Linked DNA regions of Homo sapiens: region 2 is linked to region 1. The links come from fine-mapping of genetic effects on gene expression. Tissue or cell type: thyroid. Region 1 holds a variant in brackets; the other region holds the start of a gene. All regions are shown on one strand. Distances are between the middles of the regions.

What was found. PIP is the estimated chance that this variant, and not a neighbour inherited with it, causes the effect.
Region 2: DGCR5 starts here. The variant in region 1 is fine-mapped to the expression of DGCR5 in thyroid (GTEx, PIP 0.94).

What each region holds. Positions count from the first base shown.
Region 1 is chr22:18,937,430-18,945,986 of GRCh38, reverse strand. LOC122455341 (a long non-coding RNA gene) reads right to left here. Exons shown (of 4, transcript NR_173080.2): 2 at 8,520-8,557; 3 at 6,238-6,314. Among named protein-coding and RNA genes, the nearest start is that of PRODH, 5.4 kb to the right of the region's middle. RefSeq lists enhancers at 6,628-7,135, 6,997-7,291, 6,250-7,314, a silencer at 6,997-7,291 and a promoter at 6,250-8,557. The variant C/T (reference allele first, on the strand shown) is at 3,764.
Region 2 is chr22:18,966,013-18,974,569 of GRCh38, reverse strand. It overlaps DGCR5 (DiGeorge syndrome critical region gene 5), which reads right to left and starts at 4,102. Exons shown (of 6, transcript NR_110533.2): 1 at 3,912-4,102. RefSeq lists an enhancer at 4,190-5,021.

The sequences.
Region 1 (8,557 bases):
GGGGCTTTACGCAACTTTGTAAAGGAAGTGTTAGACTGGAATTTAGGTCGACAGTATAAAATGGCTTACGATCTCTTGTTTCTAAAGTTTGATTTCCAGACCAAATTCTAATGTGGTGTGAGGCCACAGTAAGCCTCCATAATTCTGGATGTTCAGGACCAGAAACAGGACTTATTATTTTTGGTCTTGGGGTAGAGATTCCTTTTTCTCCCCATTCCCAAGGGTAGAAAGACTGCAATTTTTTATGCTTATGTTTGTCTAAACTTTCTGTTAAGTCGCTATCAACAGCTGGACTCACTTGTGCACTTGGACATGACTGAGTTTGTCCTGAGCAATTGTGGTAGAATTGACCTCGAGGTGCCCAATCTATAATAGTTCCGAATTCATTGTTTTGTAATATCACCGCACTATTGGCCACACATTCTTCCCAAACTAAAACTTCTGTATTTTTTGATTCTTTGGGAATTTCCTTGGGGCAAGGTTTCCCTTTAGGTCTAAATTTTAATGATCTTTGATAAGGAAAGTCTTGTAAATAATTTACCCGTGGCCTGAGTGACATCCCGCTTACCATGTGATAAGTGAATCTACTGATGGGACTGACAATAGGTACTTCTACCAACCAATTTTGGACTGCAGGCATTAAACATCCTGGTGCTGTCCCTAAGCAAATAGGAGGATAACGATACCCAATGGAAATATTTATCATCATCCCTTCTTCCTCAGGTTTGGCAGGGCAGCGATCATCTGTGGGGCCAGGTACCCATTCGCTATCATTAACATATACTTCTATAGGATTATCCATCCATGTGACTGGTGTTACCATCTCCGCGGAGGCCCTTTTCTTTGCATCTCCGATGGGTTCATTGTAGAACTTCAAATGTCTAGTGGGTATCCAAACAGGAAGCTGATTTTCTCCTGGTGAAACACAAGCAAAACCTCTCCCCCACGTTATCACCTTCCCTATTTCCCATGTCTTATTTTTATTATCTTTCCACCAAATTAGTTTTCCTTCATGTGGGCTGTTCTTTTTACCAGTAAGATGTTGTTCTGCAGAAGTAGTAGTCTGATTTCTATAAATGTTTAAAAAATTTAAAGTATAGAGTGCTAGATTAAGTTGCATCTGAGGAGTGGTACACTCCTTACTGTCTCCCCCTTCTTTTTGTTTAACTAATTGAGTTTTGAGTGTTCTATTAGTTCTTTCAACTATGGCCTGTCCTTGGGAATTATAAGGAATTCCTGTTGTATGTGAAATTTTCCACTGACTTAAGAATTTTTGGAAAGCTTTACTACAATATCCTGGTCCATTGTCAGTTTTGATTTTTTCTGGAACTCCCATTACAGCAAAACAAGACAATAAATGTTTTTTAACATGGGAAGTACTTTCTCCTGTTTGGCAAGTTGCCCATATGAAATGTGAATAAGTATCAACTGTTACATGAACATATGATAATCTTCCAAATGAAGGTACATGCGTGACATCCATTTGCCATAATGCATTAGGACACAGACCTCTGGGATTAACTCCTGCCTCTTGAGTGGGCAGGTGTAAGACTTGACACTGGGTGCAATGTTGTACAATATCTTTTGCCTGTTTCCATGTGACATCAAATTTGTTTTTTAATCCTGCTGCATTTACATGAGTCAAAGCATGAAGTTCTTGTGCTTTTATGAGTGCAGATGATACCAGTAAGTCAGCTTGTTCATTTGCTTTAGTCAAAGGCCCTGGTAAATTAGTGTGTGCTCGAATATGAGTAATATAAAATGGGAAATTTCTTTTTCTTACAGTTTGTTGTAATAAATTGAATAGCTGGTTTAACTGATCATCCATGCTATATTTAATTAGAGCCGTCTCAACATCCCTTGTAGCCTGTACTACATAGGCAGAATCTGATATAATATTGATAGGTTGGTCAAAATCTTGTAACACTGTAATGACTGCAACCAACTCTGCTCTTTGAGCCGATTGATATGGAGTTTTGATTACTCGTTCTTTCGGCCCTGTGTAAGCTGCTTTTCCATTGCTGGAACCATCAGTAAATACTGTTAGAGCATTTTCTAAAGGTTCACGTCTGGTTATTTTAGGTAGAATCCAAGTAGTCAATTTTAAGAACTGGAAGATCTTTGTTTTTGGGTAATGATTATCAATAATTCCCACAAAATTAGCAAGACCAATCTGCCATGCACCAGAATTGATAAAGGCTTGTCTAACTTGTTCCTTGGTTAAAGGGACAACTATTTTGTCTTGGTCATTTCCACATAATTTTATTATTCGTAATCTTGTCTGACCGATTAATGTAGCCATTTGATCCAAGTACAATGTAAAAGTCTTAACTGTACTGTGAGGAAGGAATGACCACTCCACAAGATCAGTATTTTGAATAATGATGCCTGTTGGAGAATGTGCAGTGGCAAAAATCAAAAGCTGGAGTGGGGCTAAGGGATCTATTCTATTTATTTGCGCTGACTGAATTTTTTCTTCCACTAATTTAATTTCTTTTGTTGCCTCTGGGGTTAATATTCTTTTACTATTTAAGTCTGAGTCTCCTCTTAAGATAGAGAACAAATTTGACATGGCATAAGTAGGAATGCCTAGAGTTGGCCGAATCCAATTAATATCTCCTAGTAATTTTTGAAAATCATTTAGTGTTTTTAATGTATCTTTTCTTATTTCTATTTTTGTGGCTTAATTTTTCTATTTTCTATCTGCATCCCTAAATAATGAAAAGGAGTAGAGGTTTGGATCTTATCAGATGCTATTGCCAGTCCAGCATTGGCAACCTCTGCTTGCAGAAATGTATAACAGTCAATTAATTTATCTTTCGTTTCTGCAGCACATAAAATATCATCAATATAATGAATAATATAACAGTCTGAAAACTTTTCTCTAACTGGTTGAAGAGCTCGACCTACAAAAGTCTGACAAATAGTTGGACTATTAAGCATTCCCTGAGGTAACACTTTCCACTGAAACCTGGTGGCTGGTTCTTTATTATTTATGGCTGGTATAGTAAAGGCAAATTTTTCACAATCCTGCTCTGCCAGAGGGATGGTAAAAAAGCAATCCTTTAGATCAATTATAATTAAAGGCTAATCTTTTGGGATTATGGCCGGAGAGGGCAACCCGGGTTGGAGAGGCCCCATGGGTTGAATTAAGGCGTTTACGGCCCTTAAGTCAGTTAACATACGCCATTTGCCTGATTTCTTCTGAATTACAAACACAGGAGAATTCCAAGGTGAGAACGAAGGCTCAATATGACCCTTTTCTAACTGTTCATTTACTAATAAATGTAAAGCCTCCAGTTTTTGTTTTGGTAGCGGCCACTGATTTACCCACACCGGTTTTTCTGTTTTCCAAGTTAATGGTATGGGTTTAGGAGGCTCTATAGTGGCCGCCCCTAAAAAGGATACCCTATTCCTTCTCTTTTTTGATTTATTTTAGCCTCAAATGGAATTTTAATGCCATCTTCATTTTTCCCTAGTCCCTTTCCTGGTATATATCCCATCTTGGTCATGATTTTTTGACTCGTGGGGCTATATAATGGAGCGGGCATGGTGATTTCCGCACCCCATTGTTGTAATAAATCTCAACCCCACAGATTAAGAGGAATTGAAGTAATCATTGGCTGAACAGTACTTTCTTGATTATCTGGCCCTAAGCAATGTAAAATCTCCGTACTTTGATACACTTCTGAGGCTGTGCCTATGCCGACAAGTCCTGTAACAGCCTTTTGTTTAGGCCAATTTTTTGGCCACTGATTTAAAG[C/T]AATGATAGAGACATCTGCTCCAGTGTCTACCAACCCTTCAAACTGTTTTCCTTGAATAATGGCCTTACACACAGGTCTGTTCTCTGAGACCTGACTTGCCCAATATGCAGCCTTTCCTGTTGGATCAGTGCTTCCAAGCCCTCCTATTTTTTTTAGTTCACTATTTCCACCCTTAATATATGGCAGGAGTAATAATTGAGCACTCCTGTCTCCTGGACTGGCACTCCAAGGAATTGAAGAGCTAATAACCAACTGAATTTCGCCTTTATAGTCTGAATCAACCACACTAGTATGAATTTGAACTCCTTTTAGATTTAGACTTGATCTTCCTAAGATTAGTCCTACAGTCCCCTCAGGCAGGGGGCCATATACCCCTGTGGGGATTTTTTGTGGGGGCTCCCCTGGAAGCAGAGAGACTGCTTGTATAGTACATAAATCTACTGCTGCACTGCTGCTTGTGGCAGGGGACAATTGTTGTATTGTGGTAACTGGCTTATTCCCTGAAACACTTGGGACAGTGGGGGTTGTTGTCCCTGAAAACCCTGAGGAACAAATGGCTGAATTGGGAATGCCCCAGTTTGTTGTGGGGCCTGAGGCTGGCCCCTTTGCTCGTTTCCCGACAATGGTTGCCCATTTTTATCAAATTTAGAACGACATTGACTAGCCCAATGTTTTCCTTTTTTACATCTTGGACATAAGTCAGGTGGCTCTCTACCTGTTGTAGTTGCTTGAATAGTTATATTCTGTTTGTTTAAGACTGGGCAATTCTTTTTTAAGTGACCAATTTGACCACAATTATAACATTTTCCTCCAAATGTTCTAACTTGTCCTCCTAAAACAACTCCTGTTATTGCTTGAGCCATAAGCATAGCTTTATGCATAGCTCCTCCGATTCCATCACAGGCTTTTACATATTCTGAGATTACATCTGATCCTGCAGGAACCTTTCCTTTTAATGGCTTAATGGCTGATTGACACTCAGGATTGGCGTTTTCATATGCCATCAACTCCACTATGACCTTACGGGCTTTTTCATCGGCAATTGACTTTTGAGCAACATCTTGGAGCCTTGCCACAAAATCAGGATAGGGCTCTTTTGAACCTTGTCTTACTGTATTAAATGAGGGGCAGGCACTTCCTGGGTCTTGGATTTTTTCCCAGGCTCTAAGGCAGATAGCTCTAACTTGCTCAATGGCCTCATTTTGCATTAATGCTTGTTGACTAATAGTACTCCAATTTTGACCTATTCCTAATAGTTGATCTGCATCTATGTTAACTGGAGGATTGGCAGCCCTATTTCTTCGGACCTGTTCTTGTACCCCATCAATCCACCAAGTCTTAAATTGTAAAAATTGAGAGGGTGAGAGAGACGATTTTGCCAGAATCTCCCAATCATAAGGAATGAGTCTATGTCCATAAGCAATGGAATCTAATAATGTCCTCATATAAGGGGAGTTGGGTCCATACTGTTTTACTCCCTCTTTCATATCTTTTAGCATTTTTATCGAAAAAGACTTGTATCTGGCCTCAACTGTGGGAGGCTCTCCCTCTTGGGCTCCTTCTCCAGGTGGCATCGGTTCTAACGTTACTGGGAATTGCCATGCCTCAGTATCTCCTTCCTTTCTTGATTTATCAATAATTTCATGTAATTCACTACCCTGTCTACTAGGTGGTGCCGTAGGATTAAGTCTCCTAGTGGGCGGCTGAGGGTATGGCGCCCTGCCCTGTGGTGCTGGGGGCATTCCTGGATATCCATACTGACTTTCTGGGGGTGGCCGATACTGAAGTTCAGCCGGAGGCCAGTATTGATAGGCTACTGGCGGTTGGGTCTTATTTTCTTTAACCTGCTTTTGAGGTTGTAATGTTACGGGCACCTGACCTGCTGGAAGAGGACTTGTCCCTCGTGGTTTAGACTCTGATGGCCCCACTAATTCTGGACCTTTTCCTTCTAATTTTAACGTTTCAGGATATATCACCTCCTGTAATTGATTATAGTCAACATTTTGCGTTGACTGAGCCATTACCGGCTCTGCTACATATTCGCAATGTAAACTTTCCGTTTCTTTCTGGGATTTTTTCCTTGTCTTTTCATTACAATCTATTAAACAGCTTCCAGGGGCATCAGAAACTGAAACGCTATCTTCTTCTGTTTGAAATGGTTCTAAAGCTGCTTTAATAATGGCCCAATCATTCCATACTGTAAGTGGAATGATATTACCCTTCCTACCTGCTTGTTTTAGTTCCTTACCAATTCTTTTCCAATCTTTTAGATCTAAAGTTCCTTGTTCTGGAAACCATGGGCAAAATTGTTCTATTATTTGAAATAGCTTGATTAGATTTTTTGTAGATACTTTAACTCCCCCTCTTTTTAAAAGAATTTTAATAAAGCTGAGATAAGAGGCATATTTACTTTTAATTTTACTTTTAGTTTGCCCCATTATCACCCTAGCTTCTTCCGAGCGCACAAGCTTACCGTAAGGCTGACTGTAGACGTACTCGGGATCTCTCGTCGACTTGTCCTCAATGACCACGCTCGAGCGTACCTTCACCCTAGAGAAAAGCCTCCATGTTGGGCACCAGATGTAGGGGTGGGTTGCCCCTACACACCTGTGGGTGTTTCTCGTAAGGTGGGACGAGAGATTTGGAAAAGAAAAAGACACAGAGACAAAGTATAGAGAAAGAAATAAGGGGAACCGGGGAACCAGCGTTCAGCATATGGAGGATCCCGCCAGCCTCTGAGTTCCCTTAGTATTTATTCATCATTTGTGGGTGTTTCTCGAAGAGGGGGATGTGTCAGGGTCACAAGACAATTGTGGGGAGAGGGTCAGCAGACAAACACGTGAACAAAGGTCTTTGCATCATAGACAATGTAAAGGATTAAGTGCTGTGCTTTTAGATATGCATACACATAAACATCTCAATGCTTTACAAAGCAGTATTGCTGCCCGCAGGTCCCACCTCCAGCCCTAAGGCGGTTTTTCCCTATCTCAGTAGATGGAGCATACAATCGGGTTTTATACCGAGACATTCCATTGCCCAGGGACAGGCAGGAGACAGATGCCTTCCTCTTGTCTCAACTGCAAGAGGCATTCCTTCCTCTTTTACTAATTCTCCTCAGCACAGACCCTTTACGGGTGTCGGGCTGGGGGACGGTCAGGTCTTTCCCTTCCCACGAGGCCATATTTCAGACTATCACATGGGGAGAAACCTTGGACAATACCTGGCTTTCCTAGGCAGAGGTCCCTGCGGCCTTCCGCAGTTTTTGTGTCCCTGGGTACTTGAGATTAGGGAGTGGTGATGACTCTTAAGGAGCAGGCTGCCTTCAAGCATCTGCTTAACAAAGCACATCCTGCACCGCCCTTAATCCATTTAACTCTGAGTTGACACAGCACACGTTTCAGAGAGCACGGGGTTGGGGGTAAGGTTATAGATTAACAGAATCTCAAGGCAGAAGAATTTTTCTTAGCACATAACAAAATGGAGTCTCCTATGTCTACTTCTTTCTACACAGACACAGTAACAATCTGATCTCTCTTGCTTTTCCCCACACTGGGTAACACAGCCAGACCCTGTCTCCACAAAAAAATATTTTTTAAAAATTAGCTAGGTGCAGTCCAGCCTGTAGTCCCAGCTACTTGGGAGGTTGAGGCAGGGGGATCACTTGAGCCCAGGTGTCAGGCCTCTGAGCCCAAGCTAAGCCATCATATCCCTTGTGACCTGCACGGATACATCCAGATGGGCTGAAGCAACTGAAGATCCACAGAAGAAGTGAAAATAGCCTTAACTGATGACATTCCACCATTGTGATTTGTTTCTGCCCCACCCTAACTGATCAATGTACTTCATAATCTCCCCCACCCTTAAGAAGGTTCTTGGTAATTCTCCCCACCCTTGAGAAGGTACTTTGTGAGATCCACCCCTGCCCCCAGAACATTGCTCTTAACTCCACTGCCTATCCCAAAACCTGTAAGAACTAATGATAATCCCACCACCCTTTGCTGACTCCTTTTTTGGACTCAGCCTGCCTGCACCCAGGTGAAATAAACAGCCTTGTTGCTCATACAAAGCTGGTTGGTGGTCCCTTCACAGGGACACATGAGACACCAGGAGTTCAAGGCCACAGTGAGCTGTGATCACATGGCTGCACTCCAGCTTGGGCAACAGAGAGAGACCCTGTCTCTTAAAAAAAAAAAAAAAAAAAGCCATCAGCTGGCTCAGGGTAGCCACCTGCCAAGGGTCCCCAGCTGAGCCTAAGACCTGCTTCCTAGGATTTACAGAGCTCCTGTGAAACTCGGTTGTTTCATTGATTGTCACATGGAGCCAGTGACTTTCAGGCCAGCCTTGTTCCCACAGGTGCCCTCACAGGTGGGCTCTCCCGTGGGCCTGGGCACCCAGCGCTAGGCCTGCTCTGCTATGGTCTGGACGTGAGTGGTGATCTCTGTGATCCCTGCACCCCTCGCTTCTCCCCCTGCCCTCTCTGCAGCCCTGCCCCTGGCAGCCCCTGCCCACCTTTGCCTCTGTGCAGGGCCACAGGCTTCCTTGAAGCAAATGCTAGAACTTTGCTTTTTTAAAAAAATATAACAGCTTTATTGAGATATTGAATGGTTTTTTAGTCTATACACAAGGTTGAGCAAACATCACCACTCTCTAGCCCCAGAGTATTTCCGGACCCCAAAGAAACTCCGTGGGCCTTGGCAGCCCCTCCCACTCCTCCCGTCCTCCACCTCCAGGCACCACTGCCAGTGCCATACTCACCAGGCTCCACTATGGGCTTGTCTTCGTGTGACTTCTGT
Region 2 (8,557 bases), 29 kb before region 1:
TGCATCTCCCGGTGCCCAGCTCCACGGCTGCAGGCAGTGCAGGAGGCCGGTGCAGGTTTGGATAAATAAATGATGGTGCATTCTCAGGAAGGGATTCCACACACACCAGAAAACCCACGATGCACAAGAATAGTTCCCGATGTGCAAAGTGTTTAAAATACAGCGATAAAAGAAGAAACGGCAGCACAGAACAACTGGTGTGGGGAACCCAGCTGGGCCCCAGGGACAGTGCAGGGAGATTTGCAGGGTGGGGTAGCATGCCCGCCACTCCGATCGGGCTTCCCCGGGGCCACTCTGTTACCTCCTATCCTTTAAAGCATTTAATCCTAGAGATGCACGATGCCAAGGATTGCACCCCTTGATTTGCCTGGCTCAGAAGAGAATCTGACAGGCTAGGAACGAACAAGCAAATGAATGAACAAATGAGAAAGTGAACGGACAGTTGGGGCAAATGCAGCATCTGGGATCTGGCTTCGAGGAGGGTGCCTGTGACCTTGGCCTGGGTGCAGCCAGGCTGCAGAGCAGGGACACTGAGGGGTGCAGAGAGGGCCCCGAGAGGGCATCTGCACAGCTGCAGAGGCAGCAGGCAGCCAGGCCGGCTCCTGCAGACCCCAAAGCCCAGGCCCTGGGTGGCTGCAGAGGGTCAGGCAGGCCAGCCTGGGGATCAGAGGTCAGGCTTGCCAGAATGGGGGCGGGACGGCATGAACCTCATTGATCAGACAGTAGCCAAGCGTCGGGAGCCCTCACTAACCCTGTGCCAGGGCCGGGCAGGGCGCCTGGCTCACACATGCATTTGTTCATTTCCAGGTCATCCTGAAACTCCCCGTATGCTTCCTGTTCTTGACCCCTTTCCCAGGTGCACAGACCAAGGCTCCCGGTGAGAGGTTCCGGGCCACAGGCCCAGGACAGCAGGAGGGCTCCTCTGCCTCCCACCCGTCCTGTCCTCACCAGCTGGACCCTCCTGGTGTTGCACCGGCTGCACAGGGCCGTCCGTGCCACAAAGCATGAATTCAAGGCTGGGGCAGGGACGAGGAGAGGGCAGTGCTACAAGGCTGCACTGTCCTTGGGCAGAGGGAGGCGGAGGGCACGGTCCCACATGCCCTGGCCCTCACAGCCTGCCTGTCACTCACAGCAACAGCAAACAAACCCCAGCCCCTCCACAGGCTGTGGGCCAGTCCCCAGCCTCCCAGGACAACAGGACCTTCCCCCACCTTCCAGGGCCCCAGCCCCTGTGGGGGTGTCCTCCATAGACCCTCCACAAGCCCTCTGGCTTTCAGAGACCTGCTGGGCCAGGCCCTCCCTCAACCTCTCCCCTGCTTCTCACTCCATGCAAACCTACGTTTCTGCCAGTCCCAGTGGAAGGACCCTGGCACAGGGAAACTGAGGCTCAGGGGTTCCACAGACCCCCAGGTGAGGAACAGGGGGAGGGCAGGGAGGGAGTGAAGGTACTATGGGAGGGTCTCCCAAGCTGGGCAGCATCCCTGCCCTGTCCCCTCTCCACTCACCTGTGGCCTGAGTTGCCTGACTAGGGGCTTTTATTGTCCCTTCTGCAAATGGATGGGGTGAGGGGCCAGCTGGCCATGCAAAGGTCCCAGGAGGACTCTGCTGAGTTGGGGTGTGGGGAGGTGTTCTGGGCATTCTGAGGCAGAAGCACCAGAGTCGGAACTCCACAGGGAAAGCCGGGCCAATTCCGCCCAGCCTCAGCCTGGAAGTGCCCCGATAATCCCTGACCACTGGCCCATGGTGCAGGTGAGGAAGACTGAGGCAGAGAGGTGACCTGTCACACCCAAGGTCACACTGCCAGCAGGTGGCTGAGCCAGGACCCAAATCCAGGTCACGGTTCTGCCACGGCAGGCCCTGCACGTGCCCCTCTGCCAGGTGGGGTCTAGGTGCTGATGGCCACCCATTCCCACCCCCGGCATGGGAGCTCACTTCCTCCTCACCTCAGTAGAGAAGAACAGGGAACAGTACCCCCTTTATAGATGGGAAGACTGAGGCTTAGAAAAAGAGACTGGCCAGCCCCACTGCTTCAGCTGCCCCTCTGCTAGTATGTTTCACCCTCACACAACCTACAAGGATAACCTGCTGGTCCCCACTCTATAGATGAGCCTCTGGTGGTGGCCAGGGGAGCAGGAGGTGTGGCCTGCCAATTGAAGCCCCAGCCCAGGGCCCTTGCCACAGTGCTAGTGGGCCACCCTTGCCCATCATGCAGCATGGCATCCATCTGCTCAGCACCCTACACAACACCGGAGGTAGGGGAGCCCACCACGGAACCCCTCACCAAGAAGGTCCTCACCATGGAGAAACTGAGGTACTGGAGGCGGGGCCTCTGCAGTCACGCTGGGTCACGTGCTCCAGTCAGCCAAGCTGCAGCGGCCACCAAGGGTGCCCAGGGTCTGGCCTGTTGGTCACAGTGTTGACCTCATGGCCTGAAATGGGTCTTCCCTGACCAGACAGGTTCCAGCCCACCATCATCTATCACTGCCTCAGCCCTGGTGGGTGCGGAGTGGCTGGGAGACCCTGCCCCTCACACCCTGGGCTGGGGGCATTCAATGAGCCCCCAACACACATTCCAGGGCCTCTGCTCCAGATTAGGCCACAGCCTGTCTAGGCACACAAGGGGCACCCACACCCTGGAGGCAAAGAGACATATGCCTATGTGCTCGCAGGCACACATGATCACGCGCACAGACACACGTGCAGATGCATACCAAGTTACACACACGCACACACGCCCGAGGCGGGGACCCCCAGGACACGGAGGCAGGCAGGCAGAGGTGGGGCCCAGGATGTCTTGCCCCTGTCTGTGGGCCTGGCCTCCCCACTCAACAGACGAGCATGTGGGTGCGGGAGTGGGTATTGTGAAAGGGGCCCCAGCATGTGCCACCCGTGGAGACCACAGCAGGCATGTCGCGTACATGCATGTGTGGCCGTGGGCGTGCAAGCGGGGGCGAGGACACAGATATGCACCCTCAGAGTCCGTGTGTGCACCCAGTGTTCGTGCATGTGTACACTGGGGTGGCGCTGGCACGCATGTGCACCAGAGGTGTGCAAGTGTGCAGTCCGTGTAGACATGTGCACGTGCAAGGAAACGTGTGTGCAGCCTGCGACACCATGGACATCAGCAGGGCAGCCTGGGTGGGCACCTGGGGAGCACCCTCCAGGCAGGGCATGCCCAACTCACATGGAGCCCACCCTCCCTTGCCCCCCACTGCGGGACCTCACACCCAGTGGGGCGGGGGAGTCTCACGAAGGCTGCCAGGGAGGGGATGCTGATTGCCCCACCACCCCTGATTCCCCCAGCCAAGCCTCTCAATGTCCCTCGGGCTGCGGATGTCTGGGCATTGCTGCCTCCTCTCACCGCCCGCCCTGGAGGCAGCGTTGGGACAACCTTGTCCCCCACGCCCTCTACTGCCGCCAACGCCCCCATTGATCCCCCTGAGGCCTGACCTCAGAAAAACGGGAGGTTCTGAGCCCAGTCCGCGAGGCGGGGGCGGAGGCGGCCCGATACCTCCACCTACTCTCGGTACCCGCGTTTCTGCAAAAAAACCCGCTCATTAACCCCTTCGTGGCCGCGGCGCCGAGGCCGGACCCCGTCCTTCCAGCCCGCGGCCCCCACCCCGGACCTGGCCCAGCCTCGGGGACCCCCGGGCCGCCACCCCCGGCCCCGCCATCGCCGTCAACTTACCCGGGAAGCGGCAACTTTTCCTGCTGCCTCCGGCTCCGCCCTCCCGGGGCCGGGGCGCCCTTGGCCCCAGCCTGGCGCGGCACTGCGGTGGCCCTCCCGGCCGCCCGGCTACGCTTCCCCAGCCTTGGAAGCCCTGGACGGGCCCTGCGGCTCCGAGGAGGGGCGAACCACCCCGCTCTGCGCCCCGCCGCCTGCTGGGCTCTGGCGCCGCGTGGACACTCACCTCCAGTGGACGCCCTCTTCATCATAGGGGTCAGGCGGAGCGGGTCGGGGACCGAAAGTCGCTTCGGGGCGGGCGCCAGTCTCCGGCCCAGCCCCGGGCCGGCATCCAGGCGCCGCCGCTCCGGCCCAGCCCCGGCCCGGCAGCGGGTCTAGGCTCCGCGCGCTCCGCTCCGCCCGGCTCGGGCGGGGCTCGGGCCGCGGGCGCGCAGGGCGCGGGAGGCGGCGGCGGGCGGGGCCCTCACCTGGGCGCAGGCGCCTGCCTGGGCGGGGGCTGGGGGGCGCGGGCCTGGGCGGGGGCTGGGGGGCGCGGGCCCAAGTTGGGGCGTGAGCGGCGCGGCTGGCCGGGGAGCGTAGGCCGGGCAGCAGGAGGTGCTCAGCCCACCCGGCCCTAGACAAAGCCGCGCATTCCTGAAGAGGCGGCGGCCCTGCAGGCGGCGGAGGGGATGGCGGCTGGGGCCATTGAGGCCTGGGGATGGCCTCTGCGCGACCCACTCGCTTCCTGGCCTCACGAAACCCATGAACCCCCCGCCCCCCCCCGCCCCCTGCACAGAAGCCCCTTGCTGGAGCACGATCGCCCCCATTTTTCAGTAAGAAACAGGCTCAAGGCTTAAGAGCGTTCTGGGGGCCCTCTTGGGCCTTTGTGGCCCTCTCTGCACCACCCCAGGGAGGGGACCCAGGCCTGATGTTACCCATAACCCTGCAGGGGTCCCCCACCTCTTCCTTCCTGCGGAATGTGGCCTCCAAACCCAGAAGACGCTCTCCGAGGCCGCCTGCTTAGTATCATCCCCCACTCTACTAAGCCAGCCCCCAGCGGGGCCGGGGGGGCGTCATGGAGCCAGAGAACCCAGTGACACCCCTACACACACCACACAGGGTGGGGGTGTTCCTTCTCCGTCTTCTGCTCGGGGGGCATCCGATGATGATGAGCTCCTAAGCCCATCCCGGGGTCTTCAGACAACTGCCAGGCTGTCCCTGCACCTGGAGGAGTGCTGGGAGTCAGCTCAGCTGGGCTGGGTCCTCCCCAGGCCCACCCTGCATGACAGGACCAGGGTCTTGCAGGCCAACCTGGTGTCAGTCTGTAGGACCCTGACTCAAGGACGGAGTGGGCCAGCCTGAGGTCTTGATGGCTCCCCTCAGAGCCCAGGTCCACTGATATGAAGCAGAGAGACCTGGTGACTGGGCAGCCCTGTGCTCTCTGCCTGCCCCTGGCCATGGAGGTGGCCCTGAGGGAGATGAGCAGGGCACAGGGCTGGTGACCTGCCTGCCTTGTCCAGAGGAAGTGAGGACCTCCCAGAGCCCTGGTGCTCCCATCTGATCCCAGTGGCAGGCAGCTTCCCAGGGTGGAGCCATGCTGGCCGGGCCCTCTGCCTGGTGTGGAGGCTGCACTGCCCACATGCCTCTGGCTGCCGCTCTGTGGCCCTCATCACCTTGGCCTGCTTTATCCCTATCACCCTTGTCCCAGCCTAGGCTTATGAGGGCATTGTGGAGTGCATGCCATTCCCAGCCACACAGAAGGTGAGGTGGGGCCCAGACACCCCCAGCCACTCTGTCCCCTGGCCTCCTGAAGGGGTGGGCTGTGCACACACTGCCACCTCCCCAGAGGGTGCTGGCTGCCGAGTGCCACCAGCTCAGCCCCTGAGGTGGCTCAACAGGTCCTCCCAGAGCCACACCAAGATGTCATCACCCATTGCACAGATGGGGAACCTCAGGCGAAGCTGACAGAGCCAGTGGGAGGCTGAGGCCTGACCCCTAAACAAGCATTCTTCCTCCAGGGTCCCTGCACGCAGCAGCCCCTAGACTAGGAACTGAGCTCTCACCACAGGGATGTATCAGACCCTAGATGAGTCATGAGGCACTGACCATCAGTCTGAGGACAGCGCTGGGGTGGACCAGGCTCCAGTCTCGGGCTGCTCTGTGCTTGCAGAGAGGGCTTGAGAGGACACTTGCGTGCTTACTATGCAGGCGTCTCTTCAATTACCAGTGACCCAGAGCGGCCCACTACAATTGAAGATTGTGACCCCACACCCTATCTCATAGGTTTAAAGCCCCTCCCACCCCTCCTGCAGCAGCCAAAGTGACCATTCTGGGGCATGGGATGGGCATGGGGGGAAATGGGGAGCCAGGGCTAACCTGGAGGCTTCTGGCACCACAGCCCTCTCCAGCCATCAAGTCCGGCTGTTCCCAGCTGCTCTGGGCTGGGACCTGGGCCTCCACCTCCCCACCTGTCTGTGCAGTGGGAGCAGGCCCAAGGCCCACAGAGGGAGCGCTGGGGGACCGGCTGGTTTCCTGTGTCCGCCACCTCGGTCAGCACCTTGGCCAGCGCCCTCCCCACTGGAAGCTGAGCCCACTCCTGGGTGCTAGCTGGAACGATTAGGTGTGGGCCAGCGCTGATAGGGAGTTATGGGGGTGCAGAGGCAGAGTTGAGCAGGGCTAGGCAGCCGGTCGGTCTGCTACCAGCAAGGCACAGCCCGCTTCTCAGGCTGTGCATGTGGGAGGGTTTGGTAAGCCACATTTTTCAGGGTGTAGCCAGGTCGGGGGGCAGCATGGGGAGTGGTGTACTCTCTGGGCAGGCGACCGCGGAGCCATCACCCCCCCAGGGCCCAACGGGCAAGGGAGGGAGGGCAGCTGACGGCTGGTGAGGGGCTAGCAGGGAGGGCTTGACAAGGGCTGGAGCCCCTGGTCAAGGGGCACAGCCAGTTCTATCGGGTCACCTCATGGGAGGAGCCAGGGACCCTGTGGGCAGAGCCTGGCCGTCTGCTGCCCGGAGTCTACACCAGTCAGTTCCTAGGAAGCCCCAGCAGGGGTGCTGGGAGGACAGGCCATCTGTGCCCAGCTGATGCAAGCTCCCAGGCTTTCTGGACACGTGGCCCTGGGGATCAGGAGTGAGCTGGAGACTGCAGACAGCTGTGACCTCAGGGCTGGGCAGACCTGTCACACCCTGCCTGGACTGGGTCAGCAGGGCCACACGGGCATCTGCCCGAATCGTTCCCCACCTCACACCCACCATGTAGGGCACATCCTTTGCCAGCTTCCCCAGCCCACCACCCCCCTCCAGTGAGGCCAGGGGCTGCCTCACCTCCCACCCCCACCCCCAACCTGGGGCTCGGCCTCCACGACCAGCATGCCGGTCATGAGGGCCCTGCCCAGCTGTGTGACCTCGGCCCAGCCCCTTGGCCTCGCTGAGCTTGCACAGCATGTGGACGAGGCAGACGCTAATGCCTCAGGGCCTGGTCAGCTGGTCACTGTCCCTCCTTTGTTCACCCCTCCTGTCCCCTGAGAGGATCATGCAGGGTTTTCACTCAAAACTCCATGCCTGCCCATAGAAGCCAGCTTGAGATGAGGGGACCTTTCGCAGTGGCCCGTCTTGGGCTGACAGGGACACGGTTCAGCCTCCTTGGAAGGTCCCTTCTTCCCAGGGCTTCGGGAGGCTCATCTCCCGCCTGGAGAGATAGGCGTGCCATGGCTTTCCTTGGCATGCCTGTGCGGTTCTCACGGACATCCAGGCCCTCGGTGTCTCCTGGGGAGGGATGGGCAGCAAGGAAATTGGGTCTTTGCTCCACACATTCTGGGCCACTCCAGGCCAATGCAAGGAGAGACCAGGAAGGAAGCTAGAAGGTCATGCGGCAAGCACATGCCTGCTGCCCAAGCGTGTCAATGTGACCAACCCTTCCCTGCACTCTGAGTGGGCGGCTAGGGATGTGGTCCCGGTGCCAGGGAGCTGGGGGGCGTCAGCCTGCCATCTGCTCTCACCACAGAGGGTGGCTGCATGCCCAAGGCCCGAGAGGACTCTGTGCCAGGCCTGCTGAGTGAGTCATCCCATTCAGTCCTGCAGTGTAGACACTACTACCACCACCCATTTTCCAGACCAGAGAAGGAGGTCTGGGGAGCTTAGGTGGACCCACGTCTTGGCAGCCTCTCTCAGCCCTCTCTTTGCCCACAGCCTCTGCCTCCTCCAGAAGCCTCTCACCATCCCCCATCCCCAGGGCTGCAGAGGGTGTCCTGGTCTTCCCCCATCAGTTCTGCACCCCTGAGGACTCCCATCCCTAGGAGTCCCTCTGCCCAACTTTGGTGCATGTTAAGCCATAATTAATATGCTTCCTCATCTCTTATTCATCAAAGCCACACGCAGCAGCAAAGGGGGCTGGCACAAGGAAGGGACCGACAACCAAATCCTGGCAGTGGCCCCAAGAATCCCACTGGGCCTGCCCATCTCCAAATGCCTCTGACCCTTCACTAGCAAGGGCCTCCTCCCACAGGGCTGCCTCCCCCAGCCCTGGACTGGATCCCTTGTGGCCCATCTCCAGGATGGGAACCTGAACAGAGATGAAAGGACACTCGACCAAGTGGGACATGCCAGGCTGGCACCTGGACCCCTGGTCCACCACTCTTCCTGGTGCCCAGAGGAAGGGGTGAGTCCCCAGGGTTCCTGGACCTTGAGATGAGCTCGGGCCACTTGTGTTCGCCAGCAGATGGGCTCAGGGTCTTCTCTCAGTGGGCACAACCAACTTGGTGGCCTCTCTCTGGGGAGGCCGGCTGGGTGGGGCTGGGGAGTAGGAGGCTTCTGGTCCCTGTAGGCACAAATCTGGTGCAGGGGCAGAGCTCCGGAAGGTGGGGGTCCCTGGGCTGTGCCCAAGGCATCCGCTGTGG